Homo sapiens: one gene and its partners. The protein of the gene in region 1 interacts with the protein of each later gene in a biochemical or structural test. Each region holds a gene or a part of one and is shown in the gene's direction. Other genes may lie near its edges. The genes, in order: SIPA1L1, SLC15A5, DGKZ, DGKK, MAP2K2, SLCO1C1 and RASSF6.

What was found.
Region 2: the proteins of SIPA1L1 (region 1) and SLC15A5 interact in a test that uses a peptide from one of them, tested with the Homo sapiens proteins (one large-scale study listed by IntAct).
Region 3: the proteins of SIPA1L1 (region 1) and DGKZ interact in a test that uses a peptide from one of them, tested with the Homo sapiens proteins (one large-scale study listed by IntAct).
Region 4: the proteins of SIPA1L1 (region 1) and DGKK interact in a test that uses a peptide from one of them, tested with the Homo sapiens proteins (one large-scale study listed by IntAct).
Region 5: the proteins of SIPA1L1 (region 1) and MAP2K2 interact in a test that uses a peptide from one of them, tested with the Homo sapiens proteins (one large-scale study listed by IntAct).
Region 6: the proteins of SIPA1L1 (region 1) and SLCO1C1 interact in a test that uses a peptide from one of them, tested with the Homo sapiens proteins (one large-scale study listed by IntAct).
Region 7: the proteins of SIPA1L1 (region 1) and RASSF6 interact in a test that uses a peptide from one of them, tested with the Homo sapiens proteins (one large-scale study listed by IntAct).

What each region holds. Positions count from the first base shown.
Region 1 is NC_000014.9:71,739,093-71,741,709, forward strand, and holds the end of SIPA1L1 (signal-induced proliferation-associated 1-like protein 1), read left to right. Parts: coding exon 1-69; 3' UTR 70-2,117; downstream 2,118-2,617.
Region 2 is NC_000012.12:16,187,985-16,190,685, reverse strand, and holds the end of SLC15A5 (solute carrier family 15 member 5), read left to right. Parts: intron 1-870; coding exon 871-1,018; 3' UTR 1,019-2,201; downstream 2,202-2,701. UniProt on the Homo sapiens protein: Proton oligopeptide cotransporter.
Region 3 is NC_000011.10:46,353,963-46,357,462, forward strand, and holds part of DGKZ (diacylglycerol kinase zeta), read left to right. Parts: intron 1-3,500. UniProt on the Homo sapiens protein: Diacylglycerol kinase that converts diacylglycerol/DAG into phosphatidic acid/phosphatidate/PA and regulates the respective levels of these two bioactive lipids.
Region 4 is NC_000023.11:50,380,326-50,383,825, reverse strand, and holds part of DGKK (diacylglycerol kinase kappa), read left to right. Parts: intron 1-1,222; coding exon 1,223-1,330; intron 1,331-3,500. UniProt on the Homo sapiens protein: Diacylglycerol kinase that converts diacylglycerol/DAG into phosphatidic acid/phosphatidate/PA and regulates the respective levels of these two bioactive lipids.
Region 5 is NC_000019.10:4,103,623-4,107,122, reverse strand, and holds part of MAP2K2 (dual specificity mitogen-activated protein kinase kinase 2), read left to right. Parts: intron 1-3,500. UniProt on the Homo sapiens protein: Catalyzes the concomitant phosphorylation of a threonine and a tyrosine residue in a Thr-Glu-Tyr sequence located in MAP kinases. Activates the ERK1 and ERK2 MAP kinases.
Region 6 is NC_000012.12:20,747,332-20,750,608, forward strand, and holds part of SLCO1C1 (solute carrier organic anion transporter family member 1C1), read left to right. Parts: intron 1-3,277. UniProt on the Homo sapiens protein: Mediates the Na(+)-independent high affinity transport of organic anions such as the thyroid hormones L-thyroxine (T4), L-thyroxine sulfate (T4S), and 3,3',5'-triiodo-L-thyronine (reverse T3, rT3) at the plasma membrane.
Region 7 is NC_000004.12:73,610,437-73,613,936, reverse strand, and holds part of RASSF6 (ras association domain-containing protein 6), read left to right. Parts: intron 1-693; exon of another isoform or gene 694-807; intron 808-2,107; coding exon of another isoform or gene 2,108-2,141; coding exon 2,142-2,206; intron 2,207-2,260; exon of another isoform or gene 2,261-3,500.

The sequences.
Region 1 (2,617 bases):
TCCCAGAACGCCTCGGACAAGCTGAAGAAGTTCACAGAATGGGTCTTCAACACCATAGACATGAGCTAGGGAAGGCTGAGGAGGACAGGAGAAGGGCCCAGACACTCCCTCCAGTGAGTGTCCTGCAGCCCTTATTCCCTCCATAGAAAGCATCCTCAGAGCACCTTCCCTGGCTTCCTACTCTGCCCCCTTTCGGGGAGTGCACAACACAATAGTTGCAGATCAACAATCATCACCTGCCTTTTGTAGAAAAGAAAAACAAAAAAAGTAAATAAAAATTTTAAACAGTAAAATAAAAGTTTAACTGCTAAAATGTGAATGTCTTTATTTTTTTGCACAATATCTTTATCTGTTATGTATTTAAGAAGAAACTGGGCCTTGGACCAGGGCGCCCCCTGGCCCATCCGCCTCTATTCCCATCAGCTTTCTTATCAACTTCAGGTAACCCAAGCTTTCCCTTGTTATTCTAACAAATATCATTATTCCTAGAAAAAGAATGTTTTTATAACTTGTTTGGGGAGTAGAGAGGGATATTTCCTTACCTTCTTCCCTAAAATGCCTGGAGAGGGAGTTGCTTTGAGAAAATGCCTACCTCCCTTGAATGACTCGTGCATGAGCTAGTGCTGTCTGTACCTGTCCTCCAGAGATCAGCAGGACCGGAGTTAAATATTTAACAGCAAGTCTGTAAACCAGAGCAGCTCTGACAGTGCCTGCAGGCCACACCCCTTCTCAGTCCTGCATTGTGAGGTCATTTCCTGCTTCTCCCTTTCCCCAGGAAGATGGTCCCACTTGTGCTGCAAGACTCTTTTTTGTTTGGCTTAATTGAGCCCCACTAAATTGGAATCAATCTCTCTTACAGCTTCCTGGCTCCAAACATTAATTGATTTCAGAATTCCCCCAAACTAAAACCTTATCTGTCTGCATTTTGAATGCATTTTGGTCAAAAGTATACGTTTTAAAGATTTTTAAAGATAAAAATGTGGCACAACTGGTTTTTTTAGCTTGCTGAAAATGACCATATCTCTAAATTAATCTTTCTCTCCAGAGCAAGACTTCACCAGTATTTGTAACTAGGAGAAGCTAACAGTGAATGTTTAATTGTGAATTTTAATCATTGCTTGTTAGGAATAATGACTGTGATACTAGAATGGGCTTTTGAAACCTGCATGTCCCAGTGTGAAATTTCAGCACGGCATTTTCTGCATCCTTTCATGGCCATCCAAAGGATTCCGCTGCAGAAATTATTGATGTGCTATTTTTGCTGTCTTGTGATGCAGGCTGCTTTGGGCCCCTGGGTCACTCTTCCAAGGCTGCTGTAGAGCACAGAGACATGGGGCTGGCCAGTGTTGACTGACCTGAGGAGACCCCTTTGTTTGTTGCCTTCATAACTGTCACTAAACCGACCCCTCTGCCCTTTCAGTGGCAACTCTGGTCTAAGGGAACATTCAGCACTCTAGCGGCATCTGATTGGAAGTTCCCTCACCCAAGTAATCTCAATTCCTTCCTCTCTCCATCCCTGAAAGAAACAGGATGGATTTTCCTCTCTTCTCCCTGCTACATTCACTACCAGATTTTTATGCTACAGTTTCATTCTTGATTGTGATTTCTCCATGGAATTTTTTTTTTCTGGTGACATTTCTATCATGGAAATAGGAAGATTTCGGAGTGCTTTGTGAAGATTTCAATTGTCTGTCTCTTTCTCTCTTTGACTTGTATGAAGGAGATTGTACATTGCCTGATATCTCTTTGTAAATGAGAAATATTGCTAACATCCAAGCATTCTGAAGTCTTGCTTATCCTTCTGAGTTTAGTTCTCATTTTGTTTTACATTTTGTTTGGGGACTTGGGGCAAGCTATTTATTAGAGTTTTGCAACAGAGTTCTTGTTTGAAGCCTCTAAAGACTACCTGTAAAATTCAAAGAATAAAATTCATTTTAAACGCTCTTTTAAAACACTTTGGTATTATTGCTTGAGGTTTGCTTATTTGAAAGACCACCCAATAACTCATTGACCCTCCTTGCATCCGAATTTTTTCATCAAGCTTTGTTAACACTAATGATGATTCTTGAAAATTTCTGTCCTTCTCAGAATGTTAATAAACTTTTTTACTCTGTCCACATGTCGATAGAGAATTACTATTTTGCCTTCTCTGCTTATGATTTAATATTTGCAGAGCACTTCATAATTAGCTTCCCCTTCATTATCCACGCATGGATTTTTCATAACATTGTTATTCTCTGAGACCAGCACATTTTTGGGCTGCATCTCCCAGCTCTCAATGTCAGATGTTGTGTGCCCAGGGAATACAAATGCCTGTTAATATTAGGCTGTGCAAAATATAATTAGAAAAGTTAATCTACTGAAAAAAAAATCAGTGCATTCCAAAGTCAAACCGAACCAATTTTTTTTTAATCTACCACGTCACTGTTCCTCTCCAGCGGCGCAGCTAATTGAGTGCTGACAGTAGAGTTTCTTCCTTTTATTTGGTTCAACAGTTCTACAGATTCCAGAGTTCTTGGACTAGCATAAGAATGGATGCCACAAAATATTCCAATTAACAAGCTAAAAAGGTCTGTTTAGACCATGATTCCTACATGGTTCGGAGGGCTTATACGTT
Region 2 (2,701 bases), on another chromosome or scaffold:
AAATCAAAAATAGATGACTGACCCCATCTATTTTTGAAACTTATGTGTATGTGATAAAATTAAACTTATAGCCGATATTCATTTGTTCATTTGACAAATATTTATTGAACATCTACTATGTATCAATCACTGGGAATAAAGCAGTGAATAAAGCAATTTGAAGTTCCTATTTTGCTGGAACTTACCCGAAAGTGTTTAAGAAAGTAATTTGTCTTTAGAGGCAGTATGCCATGGAGGAAAAGCGCCAGGATTCAGAATAATCAAGTTCTGGTTCCAAATCCAAACTCTGCCAACTACTATTTCTATGAACCTTAAGCAAGTTATTTAATCTCTTGGAAACTTCAGTTTCTTAATCTGTGAAATGGGATGATTCTATCCCACCCTTGCATGGGGCTGGTACTTAGAAGACACTGGAAAGGCAGGTTTTTCTGGAGGTTGGGGATGGAGAGTGCACATTCTAGAAATATATTCATAGACTCCTTCTTTGACAATGGTGCTTTCCACATAATCTCAGCACTGAATTTACAAATTCCCAGTAAACCTCTTATGCATCCTGACCGCCATGAAATCTGTCAAGTCAATAGGCTTTCAGCCTTCTCACCATCTCTCTGTCAGCACTGAAGACAGCGTAGCAGGTTGTTAAAAAGCGCCACCTAAAGGTCCTTATGAGACACTTTACTAAGTCACAAAAACTCCTTTTGTCCTTTTAAAAAGGCTGTTTTGGTGAGCAGTGCTCTTAAATAATCGTCACTGTTGTGCCAGTATCTATGAGCCCATCATAAAAGGTAGACAAGCGCAGGAGGGAAGCAAATGATTTATCAATTCATCTACATCTGGTCCTAAGAAAAGCTTTCTTTCTTTCTTTTTTAGATATTGTAATCTAAATCATTTTAATGCCCAGAACATCCGTGGAAGTAATCTTGAAGAAACACTTCTCCTCCACGAAAAATCTCTGAAATTTTATGGCAGTATACAGGAATTTTCTTCAAGTATTGATCTTTGGGAGACAGCCCTATGAAACTGTGTTTGAGTCTACCTGTCTTATGAGAACAGTATTCATTGTTTTCTTCTTCAGTTGAGCATTTTATGTGTTTTAGTGTAAAAGCCAATATATACAGAGGTGATTTTACAAATATCATCTGTATACTTTATTTACAAAGACTAATTATGAATTTTCTAGTAAACTGTCATGCTTTTGCATTAACATGTTATAGCATTAGAATTAATAAAATAATTTCAAAGTCTCAGTGATTACTCTATGACAAAAAAAATGACAGTTTTCTATACACCAATAATACCTTACAGCTTTCTACAATGGTTCAGCCATTGAAAGCGTATGACCTTTTTTTTGGAGTTTTAATGAGTCATTAGAAGCAAAATGACAGTATTTTAATATACTCTCTTTCAATACACTTAGTGATCCCTTATTACACGTGACCTTATTACATTGTGACCATATACTGTATATAACTGAGTAAATAATAAACATATACATGATTTTCTATATTTGCTGTTAATATTATGCTATCAAAATATGACTTCATTAAGGACATTTTCTCTGAATTTAAAAGCAGTATTACTAAAATAGATGTCCTTAACAAAGAGAATGTCCGCATACTAAAAAAGTTGAAAAATAAATGTAAGTTATGGAATTATTGGAATTAAAAGAAAGAAGGAAATTAGGGAAGATAAAATGAGGGGGCTGAGAGGAGGGTAAGTGACCAAACCAAATAGAGATGCTTAAAGGAATTATATGAATAACATCTTTCGGTCTCCACTGCCAATTCAGATGCATTCAGAAAATTATCTTCTAAGAGTTTCTTCTTTCATAAGCAAAAATATGTGGAAACTCATTTTTTAAAAAATCAAATAAAATTAAAGTCTGTTTCTCAGTAGCAGTATTTGTCAACATTTGGTTGAGGACAACTTGCTACAGGTGAATCTTTCTGGCCCCTATACAGACTGCCTTAACTCAAATCTTTTTTTGAGATTGGGGTCCAGCAATTGGTGGTTTTAATAAGCACACCCAAATCATTCTCATGTTCCCTAAGGTTTAAAAGCCATTGCTTTCCAGGACAATTCATGTTGGATAGGACAGGTGAGTTTATCAGCTGACTGCAAATTATTCTGCAATTATGCACCTCCCTTGTGTATACATAAAATATTTTAGGTCTGTAGAATAAAAGATTTACTCAACTTGATTAGGTATGCTACGCATTTTTAATTGCAAAAGAGGAGCTGTAAAGCACCAGGTGTTTCTGTTACTCAAACTATTTTTTGTTTGAGGACAAATGAAAAGACTTGCTGGTACAGGCATAAATTCGTTTCCTGCAACTTTTTCAAATCCTTTCTGTTTAGCAATTGTTTCCTGGCAAAACAGTGAGGCAGACCCCTAATATTCCTTAGAAGCTTTCCTTGCTGCAAAAGGTTAAATGCCAAGTTTGCAATTTGGGTTTAATGAACACTCACAAGAGCAAGAAATCTTTAAACACTTCACCTCAGTACAAGTGAGAAGCTCTAGTCCCTCTTACTGATAGAAAAGGAGCCTGCTTTATTTTGTTCTCCCCCTCCCCACAAATTTGCCTTCATCTCCTTAATTTCTACATCATAATAGAAAAAGGTGCTCATTGTGGTTTCACTTGTCCTTAGAGCTGAAAGATCTACAGAATTATAAAGTTGACCCAAAGCAAACACCAAAAGA
Region 3 (3,500 bases), on another chromosome or scaffold:
TTTACAGAGAGAGGCGGGGGCGGTTGTGAAAGGGGGCAAGCTGGTTCTTGCTCCCCAACCCACACGGACACCCCACTGACACAGCCTGCCACCACCCACCCACCTCTGGAAGGCATCCCCTTGGGGGAGACCTTCCTTCCATCCTGAGGGCCCTGAAAGGGTGAGGGACAGGCTGCCAAAACCATCCCTGGTAGACCCAGGGAGCTCTAGGGGGCTGGTCTCCCTCAAGGGGTCTTTTGTAGGACACAGGATCTCCCTCTGTCACCCAGGCTGGAGTGCAGTGGCACAATCATAGCTCACTGTAATTTCAAACCCCTAGGCTCAAGCAATCCTTCCACCTCAGCCTCCCGAGTAGCTAGGACTATAGGTGGGGGCCCCCATACCGGGCTCATTTTTTCTTTCTTTCTTTCTTTTGTAGAGACGAGGTCCTGCTATGTTGCCCAGGTTGGTCTCGAACTCCTGGCCTTAAGTGATCCTCCCACCTTGGCCTCCTGAGTTGCTGAGATTACAGGCCTGAGCCACTGTGCCCAGCCTCTGGAGTCTTTTTAAGAAATGATTTTGAAATCTTTCTAAACACATTAAATATCTTGGCGTTAGAAAAGTGTGCAGAATAAGGTGACACCTACTGCCTAGCTTGGTTGGAGCTTAGCATTAGGCCATATTTGCTTTAGATAGAGATGGAGGCCCCTGTGTCTTACTCCCTGGAGGAAACCACAATTCTGATTTTGGTGTGTGTGATGTTCTTGTGCCTGTTTTTAAAATTGTCCTACATAGGTATTCATGCCTAGCAACATACAGTGCTGTTTCGTATGATTTTACTCTGGTTTAAATGGTATACCAGGCATATTCTGCATTTAGGTTTTTCCCTCAATATTGTTTTGGAGATTTAACCATCCTAAACATGAATTCTCACGGATCCATTTTAACCTCCACGTCCGATTCCATTGTGTAACAGCAGCTTATTTGCCCAGGCTCTGTTGACGGACACTTGGGTGGTGTGCAGTTTTTCGCTATTGCAAGCGATCCCTCTGTGTTCTCTCCACCAGTGCTTGCTCACAGGGTCTGTGTATTTTCAGCTTAGACAGATGTTGCCAAATTGTGCTCCGAAGTAGTTGTCCTAATTTTTAGGCCTCTGTGTTTATTTTTTTATTTTATTTTATTTTTTTGAGACAGAGTCTCACTCTCGCCCAGGCTAGAGTGCAGTGGTGCGATCTCGGCTCACTGCCAGCTCTGCCTCCCGGGTTCAGGCCATTCTCCTGCCTCAGCCTCCCAAGTAGCTGGGACTACAGGCGCCCGCCACCACGCCCGGCTAATTTTTTGTATTTTTAGTAGAGACGGGGTTTCGCCATGTTAGCCAGGATGGTCTCGATCTCCCGACCTCGTGATCCGCCCGCCTCAGCCTCCCAAAGTGCTGGGATTACAGGCATGAGCCACCGCGCCCGGCTATTTTCTTTCTTAAAACTTTCAGTAAACTGGGGAATTGTTTCCCAGGAACAAACACTTTCTCCTTCAAGCCTGCAACACTCCCTTGAGAGAGACGAGGGTGGGCATTAGCCCTATTTATCAGATCAGGAAACTGAGGCTGAGGCAGGTTAAAAGGCTTAGCTTGAGGTCATGTAGCTGGTCAGAGGCAGATCCTCTGGGCCTTTGAAGCTAAACCTACTGTGAAGGCCTTTGTCCCCTGTGTGAGTAGTGTGGAAGCCTGGAGAGTGGGGTGGGGCCCTGGGGGCTGATGGGGGAGGGAGCAACATGGTCAGAAAGTTGAGGGGGGAGGTGTTAAATTTTTTTTTTTTCTTTTTTTGAGATGGAGTTTTGCTCTTGTTGCCCAGGTTGGAGCGCAATGGCGCGGTCTCGGCTCACCGCAACCCCTGCCTCTGAGGTTCAAGCGATTCACCTGCCTCAGCCTCCCAAGTAGCTGGGATTACAGGCATGGGCCACCACACCCGGCTAATTTTGTATTTTTAGTAGAGATGGAGTTTCTCCATGTTGGTCAAGCTGGTCTCGAGCTCCTGACCTCAGGTGATCTGCCCGCCTCAGCCTCCCAAAGTGCTGGGATTACAGGCATGAGCCACCCGCCCGGCCAGGGTGTTAATATTGAATGAGGGGTGAGGGGGAAATGCTTCTCCCAGCAGATGGGGAATGGGAGCCCTCTGCAGACACAGGAGAAGACAAGGATGGGACGGTCACCAGAGAAGAGTGGGGGCCCGCGAGGGGTTTATAACAAAGGGGCCCCTTTGGGAGGCTAAGGGAGATATATTGGCATTCCCATCAGGGATCGGTTTCAGTGTTGCCTCTGAGACACCAGAGCTCAGCCCAGACCAGACTTGTCCACCCAGTGCAGCAGGAAGTTCTCGGGAGCTGGCCCACTCCTGGGGCTCTGTGCCCACCTGAAGCCTGTGCTGTCAGCGGGATCCATGAGGCTGAGTCCAGACCATGCGCTGTTCCCTCCACTCACTCTTCAAACCACACCCAGCACTTCTACACTCTGGGGATGCCATTAGAAGCAATGTGAGGCCCTGGGGCTCACAGCCTGTCCGGGGATGCAGATTTGCACATTAGTGCTGATTGCCCAGGGTCTGAGAGGAAAACCATGAGGGAGAATTCACTGAGTAGAGAGGGGAGTGGTATTCCAGGTAGGGAGACCACCGGATGCCACGTGGTGCCACGTGGAAAAGGGACCCGCGGTGTTTTGTTTGCCAGAAGCATCCAGGGTGGAGCCTGAGGGGTCGAGGGTATGTGCCATGGAACACACTACTGAGTTCAAACCCCAGCACTGCCACATGTTAGCTGGACGACTTCAGGCAAATGACTTAACCGCTTTGTCTCTCAGTTTCCTCATCTGCAATATGAGGATACGGGCCATGGGGATAAGAATACCAACTATTCTTAGGAGGATTCGTAGCTTAATATTTGTAAAAACACTTAGAGTAGTGTCTGGTGGAGTGAGTTATGTAAGTGTCAAATACAGCATTAAAAATATGAAAGAGCAGAGAGGAGGCTGGGAGGCCTGTTGCCTGCCAGCCCCAGGTCTTTGCATTTTGCTCAGCTGACAGTAGAGTCAGTAAAAGGTGATTGGGTGCTTTAGGATGAATTCTGATGGCAGCGGGAGTCTGGCTTGGAGGGAGGCACTAAAGGAATGGGTTGGTCATTTGTTGCGCAAACATCTCTTTGAGGCCTAGCAGGGGCTGAGTCAGGGACTCGGATGTGAAAGAAGAGACTGGGGGTATTTCACCAAGGAGCTCAGGCCAGCTTAGGATCCCCGCCTAGCCCCCAAGCCTCTGAGACAGCCCCTCCTCCCCTTTCCTTGCCCACCACCCTCCCCTTGTGACTTCATGTCACCAAACCGACTATCTAGTTTTCATGAGAAAGCCATGGAGAACATGGAGCGGGCGATAGCATCCAGCCCAGAAAGGGGCCTCCAGGTGTCACTCTTGGGGTCCTCTAGAGAGGAGAGGAAGGTGGCCACCCAAACCAAGGCTGTTGCCATCCCCTTGTACCCA
Region 4 (3,500 bases), on another chromosome or scaffold:
TTTTTTTCACTGTTGCCCTTAACAGTAAATGGTTGAAGATACTAAAAACTAAAATGGTCACTAGGGGACTAGGCAGCAAATCTAAGGACATCTGTCTCACCAGTTCTCCCTCTTTAGAATATCGGCAGCAGCCAAGTTCTGCCACACTCACTCATTCTGAGTTCCATTAAGAAGATCAGTTTGGACATTAGTTAGAGAAACTCCAATCTCTGGACTGTGGTTGAGGGAGGCAAATCTCATGTGAGAGATGTAAGGTCAGTATGGTAATGAATAAAAAAGTAATCTAAGATTAAACAGCTAAACTGTATCCATTTAATTTCTCAAAAGGACACAGCTAGAAATTATTTATGTTTTCTTAAATAATTTATTTAAGAAAACAATTTTTATTCCTGTCTCCAACCCGCATTCTTGCCCCCACACTTCACCATTGGCTCAAATTTATGTCTGAGCTCTCATGGATCTACCTAATGAATTTTGATCAATAGTGCACTGGCAAAGTGTTTAACAACCTCCTCTCTTGGGGGAGAAAGCCCTGATTCATTTATGGTGTAAACCCTTCCACCATGGCCTATTTAAGTTAGTGATATAATGCCATTGAATCTGGAGTTGGAAAGAGATATGCATAATCAGTTTACATGAGCTGGTGCCAACTGGCTATGGCACACCACTGGTTTTGATGCTGACACCCTAGATGGACACAGGAGACTTGACAAATAATTTGGCTTTTTTGTTATGTACATATCTACCCTCTTTTATCAGTCTTTCCTTCCAAATGTGTGGTCATTTTCCCCTTTGATGTCGGACATCACTGAGAGCAGTTGTGCAGACTTAACTGTCATGGCACGTTTGTGTCTAGGATATTCAAAAGTTCTTTATAGGAGTAAACAGTATTTCCCTTAATACTACATATGAAGAAAATATGGGCCACTCATACATAAGGCCTCCAAAGATGACTAAAATCATCAATGTTGCTTCTTTATTATGAGTTCCAATCCCACTGAAGCTTCCCAACTGGCGAGGCACTCCCTCTTACAGCTAATAAGCTAGTTGTTCACACAAAAGGATATCTACATGTGCCTCTCAAAAATGTTATAGTTAGTGCCCAGTGTGGAGGGGGCCTTCCCTCACTGGTTTTCCATCATGCAGATTCATCTTCATGCCCAATTGATAGCGGCACTTCTTTCCTGCACCAATGTCTGTCCTCTTCTTTGAATAATTTCAGACGCTTCAAAGAAAAATGTGTCATGAACAACTACTTCGGAATTGGACTGGATGCTAAAATTTCTCTGGACTTCAACACCAGAAGAGATGAACACCCAGGGCAATACAAGTAAGGAAAAGAAACTCCCTTCCCTACATGCAAACACACTATCACAATACACATACGTATTCCTACATTCTCTACCTCTCAGACAAGCAACAGAAAGAAAGGGACCCACTGGAAGTAAAATGCATTGGCCCCAAGACTAGTCTAGCGGGACAGTGTGTGCCAAATTTTGGATGACTGCACTGGCATCCTAAACTTGAGCTGCCTTCAAATCCAGACCTGTGGATTTCTGTGTAAACACAGCTACCTGTGTTACTGTTACTGACAACAGATTATGTTGACTCAATTTAGCAAATCGCCCACCTTTGTTCTGTCTGTGAAAGTTTAACCAGGTTTCAGTAGTGGCTTCAGATCTGTTTTCACTTGACAAAGTTGCAAAGTATCAAACATCCCTCTATTTGTTTTTGGTGTTCCTAACCTGGTTCCCCTGAACCCGTTAATTTTACCCTATCCAGTGTTGGCCTGCATGGCACCTTCTCGCACTTTCATACTTCAGACAAGGCCTAAGTCAGTCTCAGAGTTCTTGTGGTACATTGAAGCTATAAGTAAAAAGTGTGACACCCCACCCCACAACACCCCACCCTTGCCACCACCACTAGAACCTCTTTCTCAAAGCAGGCCTGGGCTGAGAAACAGGAACTTTGTCAGATATGTGATTTGCAAATATTTTCTCCCAGTCTCTTGCTGGTCTTTTCATTTTCTTAGTGGTATCTTTGAAATACAAAAGTATTGAATTCTAAGGCGGTCCAATTGATCAGTTTTTTTCTTTATGGACCATGCTTTTGGTGCCATCTGTAAGAAATCTTTGCCTAATCTGAGATCTTAAAAATTTGCTCCTAAGTTTTCTTCTAAAGTTTGTATTGTTTTAGCTCTTATTAATACATTTAAGTGTATGATCTACTTTGAGTTAATTTTTACGTATAGTGTGAGGGTCTAAGGTAAGAGTCTAAGTTTATCTTTTTGCCTGTGGATATCTAATTATCTCACCACCATTTTAATTTATTTATTTGTTTATTTTTTTTATTTTCTTGGAGACGGAGTCTTGTTCTGTCGCCTAGGCTGGAGTGCAGTGGCATGATCTCGGCTCACTGCAACCTCTGCCTCCTGGGTTCAAGTAATTCTCCTGCCTCAGCCTCCCAAGTAGCTGGGACTACTGGTGCATGATACCATGCTTGACTAATTTTTTGTAATTTAGTAGAGACGGAGTTTCACCATTTTGCCCAGGCTGGTCTCGAATTCCTGAGGTCAGGCAATCCGCCCGCCTCAGCTTCCCAAAGCGATAGGATTATAGGCATGAGCCACCGCGCCCGGATCTAGAGCCATTTTTCAAAACAGCTATCCTTTCCCCAGTGAATCGTGTTGGCACCTTTGTCAAAAATCAATTGACCACAAATGCAAGGGTTTATTTCTGGACTCTCACTTCTGTTCTATTTATTTATGTGTCTATCCTATGCAAGTACCACACTATCTTGATAACTATAGCTTTACAGTAGTTTTTGAAATTGGGAGATGAAAGTCCCCCACTTGATTCTTTTTTTCAGAATTGGTTTGTTCTAGGTATTGTACATTTTCATATACCTAAACTCCTATTTTTGTAGATGAGAACACCAAAGTGCCCAGAGAATGAATGGTTTAAACAGTGTCTCAATAATTTTGTGCTAGCCTTCTGACATTTCAAAACTCATTCCATGTGATGATGGCTCATTTCTGTGGCTCTACTTTACAAGCTCCAAGTAAACTATATCCAGCCTTTCTAGTGATCGTAAGTGCCCCACCTATTTCTATCAGAGATTCCACAGTCAACAAGACGCTGTCCTCCCCACCTCCACCTCAAGTCACCTGATATCCTTTCCTGTCTCCTATTTTTCTCCACTGGCTCCTCCTCTAAAATCTCCCTACAAGCTTAGATCTGTTCCATGGCATTGAATTAGGCATTTAGTATATGGATCTGGTGTTTGGAAAAGTACTTCACTTTGCCAGAAAAGTTGCTGCTTCAAAAAAAATTGCACTCTAAGAGTCACGTGTTTCAAATGAAATTGATTCCAAGCAGCTGAAATCTCCTGGAGTAGCACAACTAGGGTAGCTGGTGTGTACCAGCCAGCTACGCTCATAGCTTTTTATGAGCATTGATGTCTGAATATAGCCTGTTTCTTCCAAGTCTGGACCAATATTG
Region 5 (3,500 bases), on another chromosome or scaffold:
TGCCCAGTGATGTATTTATATAAAATGGCAAGCACTTGTTGGTGACTGGAACTTAGGAACAGTGGGGCTGGCTGCTTCCCTGGGGTCTGAACCTATTACTGGATAACTCGGGGCAAGAACCCAGTGGACAGTGGGGCCTCATGGGATGGGGAAAGGAGAGCCAGTGGCTTACGGACCTCGTAGAGGTGCCCCTTGGCCTTTCTGGGGGTCTCGTCCTATCTGCTGAAGAATGCCCGTCTTGTTCTACTGTAATGGAAACTGGACATGTCCATCAGTAAGGGAGTGATTAAAGAATGATATTTGGCTGCTTTGCAGTGGCAAAGTGAAATCCACAATGGTGTACTGAATGGGAGTATCCCCACAGTACAACACTATTCATGTAGTGGAGGGGTGGTTGTAGAAAATAAACATAGCATGGGCTGGGTGCAGTGGCTCACGTTTGTAATCCTAGCACTTTGGGAGGCCAAGGCAGGCGGATCACGAGGTCAAGAGTTCAAGACCATCCTGGCCAACATGGTGAAACCCCATCTATACTAAAAATACAAAATTAGCTGGGCATGGTGGCGCACGCCTGTAGTCCCAGCTCCTCAGGAGGCTGAGGCAGGAGAATCACATGCACCCGGGAGGCGGAGGTTGCAGTGAGCCGAGATCATGCCACTGCACTCCAGCCTGGCGACAGCAAGACTCCATTTCAAAATAAAAGAAAAATAAAATAAACATAGCATTGGCCCATTCATTTGTTTATTGTATTTTCAAGTCAGGGTCTTGCTCAGTTGTCCAGCCTGGAGTGTACTGGTGCTGTCCTCCCACGTCAGCCTCCCGAGTAGTTGAGACCACAGGCGTGAGCCACCATGCACAGCTAATTTATTTGCTTATTTGTGTAGAGATAGGGTCTCTCCATATTGCCCAGACTGGTCTTGAACTCCTGGCCACAAGTGACCCTCCTGCCTCGGCCTCCCAAAGTGCTGGGATTACAGACATGAGCCCATTTCGATGTTGTTTTAAACTCTGGCTGGGCAAGCATGCTTTAATCCCAGTGCTTTGGGAGAATCCCATGAGCCCAGTAGGTCGAGGCTGCAGTGAGCTATGATTGAGCCACTGCTCTACAGCCTGGGCAAGAGAGTGAGTCCCGAGTCTGTGTTTCCAAATACACAGCAAGATGCGGGGGCCAGGTGCTCACTCCTGTGATCCCAGCACTTTGGGAGGCTGAAGTGGGAGGACCTCTTCAGCCAGGACTTCGAGAGCAGCCTGGGCAACATGAGGAACCCCCGTCTCTACAAAAAATTAGCAGGACATGGTGGCGCGCCTGTACTCCCAGCTACTTGGGAAGCTGAGGTGGGAGGACTGCCTGAACCAAGGAGGTGGAGGCTGCAGTGAGCCAAGATCACAGCACTATGCTGCAGTCTGGGCGACCCCTGCCTGAAAGAAAGAAAGAGAGAGATGAAGAAAGATCTGGAACAATATAAGTCACACTTGAGGGGGGAATGGTGGAAGTGATGCGGCGTCCAGGTTATTTATCCTCATTTGAATTTTTTATAAGAAAAATGTGTTTGCCGGGTGCGGTGGCTCAAGCCTGTAATCCCAGCACTTTGGGAGGCCGAGGCGGGCGGATCACGAGGTCAGGAGATCGAGACCATCCTGGCTAACACCAGTAGTGAAACCCCATCTCTACTAAAAATACAAAAAATTAGCCGAGTGTGGTGGCGGGCACCTGTAGTCCCAGCTACTCAGGAGGCTGAGGCAGGAGAATGGCGTGAACCCGGGAGGCGGAGCTTGCAGTGAGCCGAGATGGTGCCACTGCACCCCCGCCTGGGCAACAGAGCGAGACTCCGCCTCAGGAAAAAAAAAAAAAGAAAGAAAAATGTGTTCACCTACTACCTACGTAACAAAATTACAGTTACAAGACCATTTTAAACATCACACACACACACACACACACACACACACACACACACACACACACACACGGTAGACGTGTATGGTCATGCACAGAGTGAGATTTGGGGTCAGCAGTACACAGCTGCAATACCCCCTGCACCACATCCTGTCTCTGTGACTCAGACAAATTGCTTACCCTGCCAGACTTTGGTCTTTATAGCTGGAGATCAGCCCTTCTCAACCAGGGGCAGTTCTCCCTCCCAGGAGACACCTGGCACTGTCTGGGGATGTGTGTGGTTGTCACAACTGGGGGATGCTCCTGGCGTGGAGTGGATGGAGGCCAGGGACGCTACTCAGCGCCCTGCAGTGCCCAGGTCGGCCCCACCCCAGAGAGTGACCTGGCCCCGATGTCACAGTGGAGAAAGGCGGCTGCAGAGAGAGCGATGCTCCTGTGAGGCGTCTTCCACCAGCTCCTGAGGCTGCAGCACAGCGCTCCGCCCGCCCTCATCTCCGGGGAGAGGCTCTTTGAATTTTCTCACTAAACAAACATTGATTGCGGCCCCAGGAGAAACGAAGACGGAAGGAGCTGTGCTGGGGAGCAGGGGTTTTAGGGTTGCGTTTGGTGCGTCTGTTTGGTTTTCGCCACCCTGCCTCTTTCGAGTCGTTGGTCTCTTTCTGGTTTTTGTTTTTTTGAGACAGGGTCTTGCTCTGTCACCCAGGCTGGAGTGCAGTGGTGTGATCTCGGCTCACTGCAACCTTGACCTCCCAGGTTCAAGGGATCCTCCCACCTCAGCCTTCTGAGTAGCTGGGACTACAGGCGTGCACCACCACGCCCGGCTGATTTTGGTATGGGGTCTCACTGTGTGGCTCGGGATGGTCTCAAACTCCTCAGCTCAAGCATTCTTTTTGCTTTGGCCTCCCAAAGTGGTAGGATTATAGGTGTGCGCCACCACGTGCGGCTTTTTTTTTTTTTTTTTTTAATTGAGGAGTCTTGCTCTCTCGCCCAGGCGAGAGAGAAGTGGCACGATCTCGACTCACAGCAACCTCTGCCTCCCAGGTTCAAGTGATCTTCCTGCCTCAGCCTCCCGAGTAGCTGAGATTACAGGCATCCACCACCACGCCCAGCTAATTTTTTTTATTTTTAGTGGAGATGGGGTTTTACCATATTGGCCAGGCTGGTCTCAAACTCCTGACCTCAAGTGATCCGCCTGCCTCAGCCTCCCAAAGTCCTGGCATTACAGGCGTGAGTCACCGCTCCCAGCCCATGTCCGGCCTCATTTTAAGTAATTCTTTTAAGGTAGATTGATAAAAACTGAGAATAGAAGCAGCTTCCACCTGGCCCTGGCTCACTGGAGCTCCCGTCCTGGCACCTCCTCCTGGGCTGTCTGAGCCCTGGCCATACCTGCCCTCTCACCCTGTGTGTCTGCGTCTTCAGCCTGGAGCTGGTGGATGGAGTCACGTGTATGCTTTAGAGGTCTCAAAGCGTGTTGGGTTTTCTAGAACTGCCTTCGGCCTTTCTCTCCAAGCCTAGCTGGGCAGAAGTGGCCAGAGAGCGGCAACCCGGGCACCCCTGAGTCCCAGGATTTCTCCCCCGGCTCCTCCCACCCATGTGAATGAAAGCC
Region 6 (3,277 bases), on another chromosome or scaffold:
GTCACAAGAATTGCTTGAACCCAGGAGGCAGAGGTTGCAGTGAGCCAAGATTGTGCCACTGCACTCCAGCTTGGGTGACAGAGGGAGACTCTGTCTCAAAAAAAAATAGAGTTCAGAATGGGGAGAGAGATGAAACAGCAATGGCAAAACATTAATAATTGTCAAAGCTATGATGGTACATGAGGGTTAATTATATCATTCTGTCTGCTTTTGTGAATTTTTGAAAATGTTCTATTATAATAATCTTAAACCACGTACAGAAAATTGCAAACATTTGAATTTTTTTGGCTTGTCTTCACATCATTAAAGGTAATGTAAAATTGGTTATCACCTGGATTTTTTAAGTGGTAAATCATATATTTGTTTGGTTTTTGAGGCACCAAATAATCCAAATTTAATTCAAAATTTTCTGCTCTTCTTGTTCTTGGGGTTTCAAGCAAAATAGAGGGGATCATTTGTTATTTAAAAATGTAAACATATACAAAGATAGCAAGAACTGTCTTTGTATACAGCAAAGATAGCAATGAACTCCCATTTATCAATTACCCAATTTCAACAATTATCAATACACAGCTCATCTTAGGACATCTGTGTCCCTAACTACTTACCCAACTAGCTTATTTTGAAGTAAGTCTCAGACTACTGTATTTCTTCTATAACATGTTTGGTGTGCTCTTCTAATCAAAACCATAATGACTTGTTTTAATCTGGTGATTCTTGCATCTTAAAAAATAACTTCTTAATATTAGCAAATACCCAATTACTGCTTAAATTCTTTAAATTATCTGATGTTTCCTTACACATGTAGGTTTGAATTAAGAACCAAACAAGGTCCACAATTGCATTAGGTGATATATCTCTAAAATCTTTTTTAATCCATAGGCTTTACTTCCCTCTTTCTCTCCCATTTGTTGCGAAAATTTCAAATCTACCAAAAAATTTAAATTACAATGAATAACTGTATAACTTTTACTGGGATTTATCAACTGTGTCCAAAAACCAGAAATCTCTCTCCTCTGTTTCTCTGAGCATACAAATATTTTGCTGAATCATTTGAAAATAAGTAGTGAACATGCTGACACCTCACTCCCAAAGCCCTCAACTTGTGTTCTTCTACTAGAGCAAATCTATATATAGACTTGTCCTATATAACCACAATACCATTCTCACACTTCAGAAATTCAACATTGATATGCTACTCTATCTAATATAATCCCTCATTCAAATTTCTTTCATTATAACAATAGTGTCTTCTATAGTGTTTTATTTTTTCTTTTGATCCAAGGTCAAAGACCACATATTGCATTTAGTTACCTTTCTTTATCTCCAAAAATTCCTCATTCTTATTTTTTTGTTCTTTTGTGACATTTATATTTTTTTCAAGAGGCAAAGCCAGTTGTTTTGTAAAATATCCCAACTATTGGATGTGTTTGTTTGCTTGTGAGTATGTCCAGGTAAAATATTGTTGGTGGCAATACTACACACGTGATTTGCATGATGCTTAGTAAATCATATCAGGAAGCACATCATTTCAGTTTATACCTCATTGGAATTTTAATTTTGGTCCCTTGGTGAAGGTGGTGTCTACCAGTTTTCTCCATTGAAAAATCCTTCTGCAGTTAATAAGTCACCTATAATTTGACACTTCGAGATTATGTCACCATTCTGTTTCCCAAAAATCTTTCACCCAAAATTTTAGCAGCCATCGATGAGTCTGGATTGAATCAATTATTTACATGAGTATTTGCAAAGTTTAGGTAAACCTTTACATAGAAAATATTTTCAAATATTTTCATTTGTTTTCAAAGAACAAATGGATAATCTCTGAAATTTAGAAGTGTCATAAATATTCTTAGATGACTTTAAAAATTTAGTGAGATTATTTTGTTCAATATAAGCATACAAAGCAATTTTATAACAGAAGAAAACATATACAAAAAAGGTTAAAACTCAAATGCCGGAAACAACCAGACAGTTGATGGAAACGAGTGATGTAGGCAGAGAGAAAGCTGTATGGACTTGTGGTGGACTCCAAGTGTAGGCAGCGGTTGGGGGAGTGAGGCAGCTGCTGCTTAACTCCAGCCAACTATGACCATGGACTGCCAGACAACATGGTTCTTAAGAGAACTCAGAAGTGTGCAAGTTTATATGAAATCTCCTAGGTTTCAGCTATTGGCTACTAACTAAAAAACAAAATCCCAAAGTCTACACAGACTAAATAACCAATGTTAATGAACCACCAATTTAGAACATATAAAATATACACTGAGCTATGAACAACTGCTTAAGATACTTTCGTTAATATTTGCACATGAGAGACACATTTTCTCCCTAAGGAGGGATTAAATTCCTAACATTTTCTGAGAACCTACTAGGGTTTCTGGCATGAATAAGGAGGACATGTTTCCTACCGTGGTGAGCTTACAGTCTAGCAGAGAAGGCAATTCAACAAGCTATTACAGGAGTATTTAAAGTTTGATGAGATGTAAAACAATGAGAATTAATGCAGTTTAGTTTATCAAAATGAACTGAAGGAAAACGTTCAAACTTGGATTTTAAAAGTGAGTGTGTATTAAGAATGTGAATAAGAGAAAATCATTGCTTGGGATAAAGGAAACTACACAAGGCATTCAGACAAGAGGAGAGAACATTTTAGTCACTGAAAGAAATCCAAGAAAATTTGAGTCTGAAATGTAAGACAACAATCTTGCCCAAAGTGAGGCCACAAAAGTAGAAAGACCCAATGTTCAGTTAACTACTCTTCTTTTGGAACAGATGTCTTGGGAAGTCACCTACTTAATTCAGTGATGCAACCTCTGTATGATGTACAGATTTGAGAAGGTTAATGAATGAAGCCAAGGAATCATGAATTGGCTGTTGCTTTAAGTTAGGGTAGAAGGAGTGGCAGTGGGAATGGAAAGAAGAGAAAGTGTTTAAGATATACCTAATAGATAGACTCAGTATGATTCCGGGACAGATTAAATATAGTGATAGCCAGAGAGAGGAGAAAGAAGGATCAATGATAACTCACAAGTCTGCTTTAATGACTGGGCTTCCACTGATAAAGGGACAGGTCTATAGGGGAAGAAGTTGAGCTCATGTTGAGTTTGAAGTGCCTGAGTGACATGCTTCTGGAGATAAATAAATGGCAGTTACTGCATGATTCTGGAGCTTATGAGAAAAGACTGGATTAGAGAGATAGGTTTGGGAGATTTCAGCATGTAATTGATGGCCTTTCATCTCCAAAACAGTAATTAGATTAAAGTAAGTGGTTTCA
Region 7 (3,500 bases), on another chromosome or scaffold:
AGAGATTATGGGATGGAGACAGATTCGATTACCTGGAAGAATGTATAGATAGAGAAGAAAGGATGGCTGAGAATGGACACTCAAACAAGCCAGTATTTAGTGATCATACAAAGGAGGAATCAGCAAAGGAGACTAGTGTTGAGGCCTGTGAGATAGCAGGAAAATAGAGTGAGGTGATTGTTATTCATGGTTTGTCTCAAAAGCATCAAGAAGAAAGTGTTTTAAAAGGTAGGAAAATCAATCTTGTCAAATGTTGCTAAGAGGCCGAGAAATGAGGAGAGAAGTGAACTCTTTGGCAAGGTATAGGCTCTTGGAACATGGATGGAGAGGTGGAGGTAGGGCTAAATTAAAGGAATATATGATAAATAATCTGGACCCAGGAGGAAGAAGGAAGTGTTTGGACCCCAGGGTCATCACTGGGGGATTTCAGTCGGGGACATTAATAACCCTTTTGGTGGGTTATTAGAATGACAAAATCCAGGGGCAAAACTCAAGTTTGAGAAGCTGGAGGAACCTGTGTAACCTGTATAACCAAGTTGCCCAGACCAAATCCTGTGAATAAGTAACTGGGATTCACTGGGCTCATGGAGCATGTTGTGTCTGTGTGCCCAAGGCAGCATAAAATGCCCATGTGGCTTCTGACGTATAGAATTACTTTGCCTGGTGACTAAGCTTCTGTGTCTCTGGTATGAGTCCTCCAGGTGTCCTGCATGAGACCTGCCAATGATGTGCTATCAGAGGATGCCATTTCCAACTAGAGAAGCACAATTCTTTGAGCAAGAAGATAGCAATAGAAAAGAAAGTAAGGTATAAATCAATAATGACAATACAAGGTAGAAAGCAGAATGATGACAACAGTGTGGATTCAAAGGACATGGGGAGACTTTAAGATTTCCCACTGGGGACTAAAAGGGACCAGATATCTGGACCTGCAGTGAGGAGGGCCCTCTGCTGCCAGGGGAAATGGGTGAGAAAAGACTCAATGACATGAAATTTCATTAGATTACAAGGCCTGGTGTTGAAGAAATGTTTCAATTTGGAGCCTGGAAAGGTAGGTTTGAGTGGAATTGAAGAAAACTTGAGAGTCAGGTTAAGGGACTTGGGCTGTATTTATTAAGAAAGATACCAAGATGGTTTGTGACCAAATAGGTGATGGGATGATCGGAATGATAAAAGCCTAAAATGAGACTCCAGCCAAGCATTCACCCTGAAAACTGTAACAAAGTACCTAGTGAGTTTAACAACATGCTATAAAGAAAAATATGCATCAGAGATTTTATGAGAATAGAAGAATAGCTTTCCTGTTTTCTTTTTTTCCTGGTACTCTGAAGAGTTAGGACATATAATTTCCTAATTTTTATTCATCTTACCCAACCCAAATAACCAGATTTGAAAGGAAAAGGAGGAAATCCACCCCCTTATACACAACGTTTTTTTTTTTAAAAAAAAAAAAAAAAGAAAACTGAACTCTCTCATCCATCTTTTTTATTCTGGCTCTATCCCCTAAAATCTTATAGACTTGGAGCCATGATAACTGAATATTCAATTTTTGCAAAATGGAATGAACAGAAAATATTATACTTTACATCTCTGGTCACACCCTAATGCCATTTATATGAACATATAAAGGAGGAGATTATTCACATCTGACCACAGTTTCCAGAGCTTGAAGGAGACTTGAAAAATATTACATCATACCTAATCAACTCTTCAAGTCAGAGCTTGATTTTAGCTGCCTAGAATTGCAGTTGTCTTCTGCTGATTGGGGCAAGGTTCAGCCAGTTTGGGTGAGTTATTGCAATAGAAGGAATATGCTCCCTTATACAGAATTATATAAATCAATAGAGTCATATTTATTTTGCTAGAAATATATCTAAAACAGACTTACCAAATTGTTCAATCCATCCGTGTCTGGAGTTACTGTTTCTGTAGTTTTTCATTTACATAATACATTTTTCTGTATTTTTGCTCACACATGACATACTACTTAAAAACTTTCTAAAACCTTCTTATACTCTAGAGACACAACAAAACACTCAACTTAAATCAGAAACTAATTTTTTAATGCATTATAGGAACAAATCATTAATATTATTCTCATGTTTAGGATATCCTCAGACCATCTCAAAAAGGAGGAAAAGATGACTATGATGGCTCACCAGTACCCCTCTTGGATCTTCATTAATGAGAAGACATTCATAACCAGGTAACCACACACCTTATATTATACATTGTCCTACTCACCAGTCATTTGTGGAATATACCGTCAAAGTTTTCTAAGCATGATGTATGGTCAACAAGATCAATAATATGAATCATCAGTAGAGATACTAGATAAGAAGTTGGAAAAGTATGTTCCTAAAGACTCTCAAATTTACTCTCATGGAACAATCACTAATATTTTGTTTAACAGTGGTTTTACTTTATTAAAAGCAACATTTCTGTTTTAATAGTTGGGATAATATTGAAGAGCAGCATTAGGTGAAAGATCTAAGGCTTCTCATAAATGATAGTTCTAAAGAATTAACCCCAGGGCCAAAAACATTATGTCCTGTCCTAACCTCTCCATCCCTTGCTCCTCATGACACTTTATTTTTACTGGTTCCCTCTTGACATTAGATTATGCAATATATGGCCAACATCCACAGCTTTTCTTGTACGCAGCAAACAGTATCTCATATTGCTTTGGGAACAATAGAGTAAGGGCTTAAAAGCTATAAGAGTAGAGATGAAAACTGAAACTGGCCAAGCTACAGCAGAGGCTGGGGGCTGAGAGGAGATGAAATCATGAAAAAATAAGTGGTACTGAAACATGACCCAAATCTTATGGGGGGTGGAAAAAGGAAAAAAGCCAAATAAATGACAGAGAGAAGGAGAAGTGAATGATGCAGGGTTGGGCAGTAGGAAAGTGAAGGAAACAAATATGATCAAATATGGAAATAAAGCCACAGCTGAAAGATAAGGATGAACTATAAGCAGTGGGAAAAAGACCTGATGCAAAGGATAAAGGATCCACTGACTTATTCCTCAAACACTTACTGATTACTCACTGTGAGCAGGTGTATTTTTGGACCCTGAGCATTCAGTAATGAACCAAACAAAACCCTTACTCTCATGGAGTTACATCATAAAGTCGGGATGCAGTCAATACATAAGATAAATGCTGAGGAAATGGAGTAAAGAGTGCTAGAGATAGAGAGCGGAAAGGGTTCTGATTGCATATAACCTAGTTCCTTCCTCAGTGAGCGGGAAGCACTGGAGGAAAAGCCTGCAGAAAGGGAGAAAGCAAGCCATGCAGCTTTCGCAGGTATTCCAGGCAAGGGGAATGGCAACTCCACAGCCCTAAGGCAGATGCATATTTGTAAGGGTCAGGGAGAACAGTGTGGGGAAATGGAAGTAGAAAGACAGCAGGAGAAGAAGCCAAATGGGCTCAGAACATGTAGGGTTTGATAGGCCATTATGAGGCTTGATCTTTCCCACTAAATAAGATGAGAAGCTGT